Regions from separate parts of the Homo sapiens genome. Here region 2 is linked to region 1. Evidence: fine-mapped expression QTL. A gene starts in region 1. The other region holds a variant in brackets. All regions are shown on one strand. Distances are from middle to middle.

Evidence for each region. PIP is the estimated chance that this variant, and not a neighbour inherited with it, causes the effect.
Region 2: its variant is the best candidate, but not a certain one, in a credible set for the expression of LINC02702 in liver (GTEx, PIP 0.83).

The regions. Positions count from the first base shown.
Region 1 is chr11:116,637,718-116,640,539 of GRCh38, forward strand. LINC02702 (long intergenic non-protein coding RNA 2702) reads left to right here and starts at 1,705. Exons shown (of 3, transcript NR_135069.1): 1 at 1,705-1,820. It overlaps LOC107984372 (a long non-coding RNA gene), which reads right to left and starts at 1,597. Exons shown (of 4, transcript XR_001748078.1): 1 at 615-1,597.
Region 2 is chr11:116,664,357-116,667,178 of GRCh38, forward strand. No RefSeq gene overlaps it. Among named protein-coding and RNA genes, the nearest start is that of LINC02702, 26 kb to the left of the region's middle. The variant T/C (reference allele first, on the strand shown) is at 1,208.

The sequences.
Region 1 (2,822 bases):
ACAAGGCCATTTTAAGGCTGGGATTCCACTGGGTTTATTGTGCTTAGCAGTGAATGGCGGAAACCACTCAACCACTCTGCTTTCTCTCTGCTCCTGTGTTGTCCCATTTACCTCTGGAGAGCAGGGGAAGAGCAAGCTTGAAGCTACCCTGGACAGAGGGTGGGGCACAGGGAGGACCCTGGCTAGGGTGTGGAAAGCTGACTGACAGGTGAGGAGCTCCATAGAGGCCCTGCTTGCAAAGAAGAAATAAGGGTTGCATTAGCATACCACGGGCCTGGATGCCCAGAGAACAGGATTTTAGTCCTGCTCTGCTGCTGATGACTAGCTGTGCAGCCTCGTGCAAGACACTTCCCTGCTCTGTCTTCATCGGTTAATTAAGAAGCCTGGACAAGCCAACCTCATTCCCTCTACCTGGAATGCATCTCCTTCCATTTCCCCATGGCTGCTCCTTTCCATCTTTCACATCTCAGCTCACGTCAGCTCCTCCAAGAAGAGATAACCACCCTCTGTTACCACCACTCCCCACCACCCAAGCACTCTGGAGCACATCGTCTCTCTTTTATTTTCTTTATGGGACTTACCACGGTCTTAATTATCTCTGCATTTGTACTCACTTGTTCCCTTGTGTGTTATCTCTGTCTCCTCCCCACTGTCATCTCCACAAGATCAAGAGCTTCATATGTCTTATTCATCTCTTTCACACCAATTCAGTACGTGGCACATGATGGGGGCTCAAAAAAAATAGTATGTCCACCAGCAGAATCATGAGGTGATCATTAAAACCCCTCCAGGATGGCACTCAATAGTCCTTGACATCTGCACCCAGAAAGTAAGGGCGGCATAGGGTGCGGGAAGAGCGGGGATCATCCAGGAGAACTTGTGGGAAAAGGACGATCAGAGCTGGATTCTGGGAGACAGAGGAACGCCAGCCTAGAGAAGGGGAAAACCTGTCTTGAGAAGGCAGGCAGGCAGGAGCCACAGCGGTGGAGAGCTTCAAGTCCCTGCAGCTGCTACACCTTCAGGCTCCCAGCCAAGACCATTTGGTGAACTATATTAATAATCACAATACAAGAATCCCTTGTGGACTGGAACAATTTCCCTTCCAAGGCAGTGACATGCCTATCACTTCACTTTATTCTTCTGCCATCCCCTTGATACAAAGGAGGAGAAAATATCTTCTGCTATGTATAAAATTAATAACAATTGTTCATTTGTATAGTACTTTCCCATTTCCCGAACACATTTTCTTATACAGGAATGATAGTATTTATTCCCATGTTGCAGATGAGGAGACTCAGAGAGGTGAAATGACTTGTCCGAGGTCAGTCATAGCGTATGTAGCCTGGAAAACTCAAGCCCCGAACTCCAAATTTTTCAACAACCTAGTGGTGTTTTTTCCAGATGAGGAAACTAACAGAGAGAGAGAGAGAGAGAGAGAGAAAGTGTATGGCTAGCTTATGAGAGCTCCCCACCCACACATCCAGGGGGTTAAATTATTTGTAGGGTCAGGATGAGGCATGCGGACAGTGGGAAGGGAACCATCTCCCTTCCCGACCTGAGCATGGAGATGGAGATCACCCTGAGTGAAAATGTTCATTTTTACAGTTCAGGGAGGGAGGGGCAGAGACTTCTTACATTACAGAACTCTAGAATTCTCAGCTGAAAATGATGTTGGAGATGTCTATGATCTCATTATACCCAGGTCCCAGTGCCCTCTTCTAAGCTCTTTATCATCATAATTTCTGATGTAAAGAGCATGATGCCATGGACAAAATGGGCCCTCAGTGACTATCCGATGCAGGGCCAGGCACTGAATGCAGGTGAGTGAGGAGGATCAGGTGCAATAAGTCAATAGCCATTGGCACTCAGCCCCTGTGTGGGGGATACAATAGGGAGTGGTGGGGACCGTGGCAAGTTAGGAGAGTGTAAACCCCGTGTGAGGGGAGAAAGATTGCAGCCAATTGTTGCCATGTGGACATGCAGGCCCAGTGTTACCAATTCTTACAGTTTTGAAAGAAGGTCAGAAGTGTGGCTCTCTATCAGAAATTCTAGAATATTAAATGTGGGTGCTTAAATTTAAAGCACTGTATAGGCCAAACAAAATATGTCTAAGAGCAAGTTTCCTTTAACAGCTTTGTTGAGGTATAGTTGATATACAAATAACTGTACATATTTAATGTGTACAGTTTGGTGAAGTTGGACATATGCAAACACCCATGATACCATCGCCACAATCAAGGTAATATGCATATCCAACACTTCCCAAAGTTTCTCATATTCCTTTGAGTGTGTGTGTGTGTGTGTGTGTGTGTGGTAAAAACACTTAACATGAGATCTTAAGGAATTCTGAAGTACACAATACCAGATTCTTAATTACAAGCACTATGTTGTACAGCAGATCTCTAGAACTTATTCACCCCGCAGAACCGAAACTCTATATGCATGGAATAACAATTCCCCATTTGCCTCTTCCCCTAGCCCCTGACAATTTGCTCCAAGCCCTGGGTGCTGTTGGTGCAGCCAACTCTTTTCTCTGCTGCTATTAGTTTGACAATTTCTGATATGTCATATACATGGAATCAATTTCTGATACATCATATACATGTGACTGGCTTATTTCACTTAGCATATTATTTCACTTAGCATATTTCACTTAGCATAATGTCCTCCATTGTGTTGTTGCAAATGACAGGATTTCCCTCTTTTTCAAGGCTAAATAATATTCCACTGTATGTATTTACTATGTTTTCTTTATCCATTCATCTAACAGAAAGTTTCTATCCATTGTTCATTGGTTTGACACTTGTAGTTAAATGAATAAA
Region 2 (2,822 bases), 27 kb after region 1:
TGACATGTTTAACGTTCTGAAGAAAAACAATTTACAAATTAGAATTCTGTATTAGTCAGGATGGGCTTGGTTATACTACAATAACAGACAACTCCAAAATCTCAGCTGTTAACACATTCAACTCAGTTCAGCAGGGACCCAGGCTATTGGAGTTTTCATCTATTTCCATAGTAGAAAAGGAAACATGACAAATGGCTCTCTTAAAAATTCTGTCAAGGTGATATCACCAAATTGGTACAGTCAAAGCAACCTGGCTTTATTCTCTCCCACAAAAAATAAATAAATAAAATAAAATCCAGTACCAAGATTATCACCAGCATTATCCCAGAACTCAATTCTGAGGCTGAGACAATCCCCGGAACGACAGAGAAGTAAAACACTCTGAGTAGATGGTAAGAGAAACAGACTTCTCTATCCACAATGCCCCTCCTTCAATCTGCCAGGCACCACTCATGGATCATTTCTTCCAGATTCACATTTTCTACACTGGAAGAAGTGAAAGCAAGGCAGACAGCCAGCTTCCTCACTTTCTTGGGTTCCCTTGCACAAACACTGTTCCTACCTCAGCCCACCAGAAGCACCACAAGTGCCTACAGGGAGAGAAAACCCTGAGGGTACCTAGAGACAAACAGGGGAGGCAGGACTAGAAACCCCAGCCCACAAAACTCTGCTTTTTATCTCAGCCAAAGGAGATGCCAAATCAGAGTAGCTGTTTAACAGCATGCTATAGAAGGCATGCTCCACGGGCCTACTGGGCATACACTCCTTGCCAGCCTTCCCATTTAGCCAGAATATCCCCCATTCAGGACAAGCAGTGCTCTGAACATTTGGATGGGCAGTGCTCTGAACATTTGGATGGACAGTGCTCTGAACTTTCGTGAGAGCTGAGGCAAACCTGAGCTTAAAGCACTACCTAGTGCCAAGAAAGAGAGGCAACAATATAGGATTAAGGAGACTTGCAGACAGCTACAAAGAACCTTTAAGCAAATATACCCTAGAAAGACCAGAACATGTGAGACAGTGATGACTAGAATAAGTAACTAATCTTTCAATGAAAATCCATAAATGTACATACACAAGAAACAACAGCAAACAGGGAATCATGACCTCCCCAGATGGACAAAGCAAAGAGCCAGTGATCAACCCTAACAAGATGGTGATGTGTGAACTCTCAGATAAAGAATTCAAAATAGCAATTCTAAGGAAA[T/C]GCAGTGAATTCCAAGGTAATATAGAAAATCAATTCAGAAAATTAACAGAAATTTCACAAAAAGGTTGAAATAATTTTTTAAAAAATCAAACAAAAGTCCTGGAACTGAGAAATGCATTTACTGAACTGAAAAATACATTAGAGACTCTCAACAGCAGAAGGAAGATCAAGCAGAAGAATCAGTGAGCTCAAAGATAGTTTACTGGAAAATACACAGAAAAAAATGAAAAGGAATTTAAAATGCCTACAAGATATAGAAAATAATTGCCAAAAAGCAAATGTATGTCATTGGCATTCAGGAGGGAGTTGAGAAACAGCAAGAGTAAGAAGTTTGTTCAAAGAAACAATAAGAAAATTTTCCAAACCTAAAGAAAGATGTAAATATCCAGGTTCAGGGACCACCAAACAGATTCAACCCAAATAAGACTACCCCAAGGCATATAATAATCAGACTCTCAAAGGTCAAAGACAGAGGATCCTGAAAACAGCAAGAGAAAAGCAGCAAATAGTACATAAAAGAGCTCCAATTTGTCTAGCAACGTACTTCTCACCAGAAACAGAGGCCAGGAGGGAGGAGGACAACATGTTTAAAGTGTTTTTAAAGAAAACTGCTGAGTACATTGTACCTGGCAAAGCTTTCCTTCAAACATGAAGGAAAGAGAAAGTCTTTCCCAGACTAACAAAAGCTGAGGGAATTCATCACTAGACTCGTCATACAAGAAATGCTAAAGAGAGTTCTTCAATCTGAAAGAAAGGTTGCAAAAAGCAAGCATTTGAAGTTATAAAACTTACTAGTAAAAGTAAGTGAACAAATTCAGAATACTCTAACACTGTAACTGTGGTGTGTAATCCACTCATGTCTCTAGTATGAAGACTAAAAGACAAAACTATCAGAAATAATAACTACAGTAACCTGTTAAGAGATAGGCAAAATAAAAAGATGTAAACTGAGACAACAAAAGTCAAAATGTAGCAAGGGGTGGAGTTAAAGTGTAGAGTTTTGTTTAGTTTTTCCTTTGTTTCTTATTTTTGTGATCAAATTTAAGTTGCTGTCTGTTTAGAAGAACTTGTAAGCCTCATAGTAACCACAAAGCAAAAATCTATAAATACACTACAAATAAAAAGCAATCAATTAAAACATACTACCAGAGGAAGTCCATTCCAAGATGGCCAGATAGGAACAGCTCCAGTATGCAGCTCCCAGCGTGATTGACACAGAAGACAGGTGATTTCTGCATTTCCAATTCAGGTACCTGGTTCATCTCACTGGGACTTGTTGGACAGTAGGTACAGCCCATGGAGCATGAGCCAAAGCAGGGCAGGGCGTCACCTCACCCGGAAAGCACAAGGAGTCGGGAGATTTCCCTTTCCTAGCCAAGGGAAGCCATGACAGACTGTACCTGGAAAATTGGGACACTCCCGCCCTAACACTACACTTTTCCAACGGTCTTAGCAAATGGCACACCAGGAGATTATGCCCCGCGCCTGGCTCAGCGGGTCCCACGCCCACAGAGCCTTGCTCACTACTAGTGCAGCAGTCCAAGATCAAACTGCGAGGCAGCAGCCTGGCTGGGGAAGGGGCGTCCGCCATTGCTGAAGCTTGAGTAGGTAAACA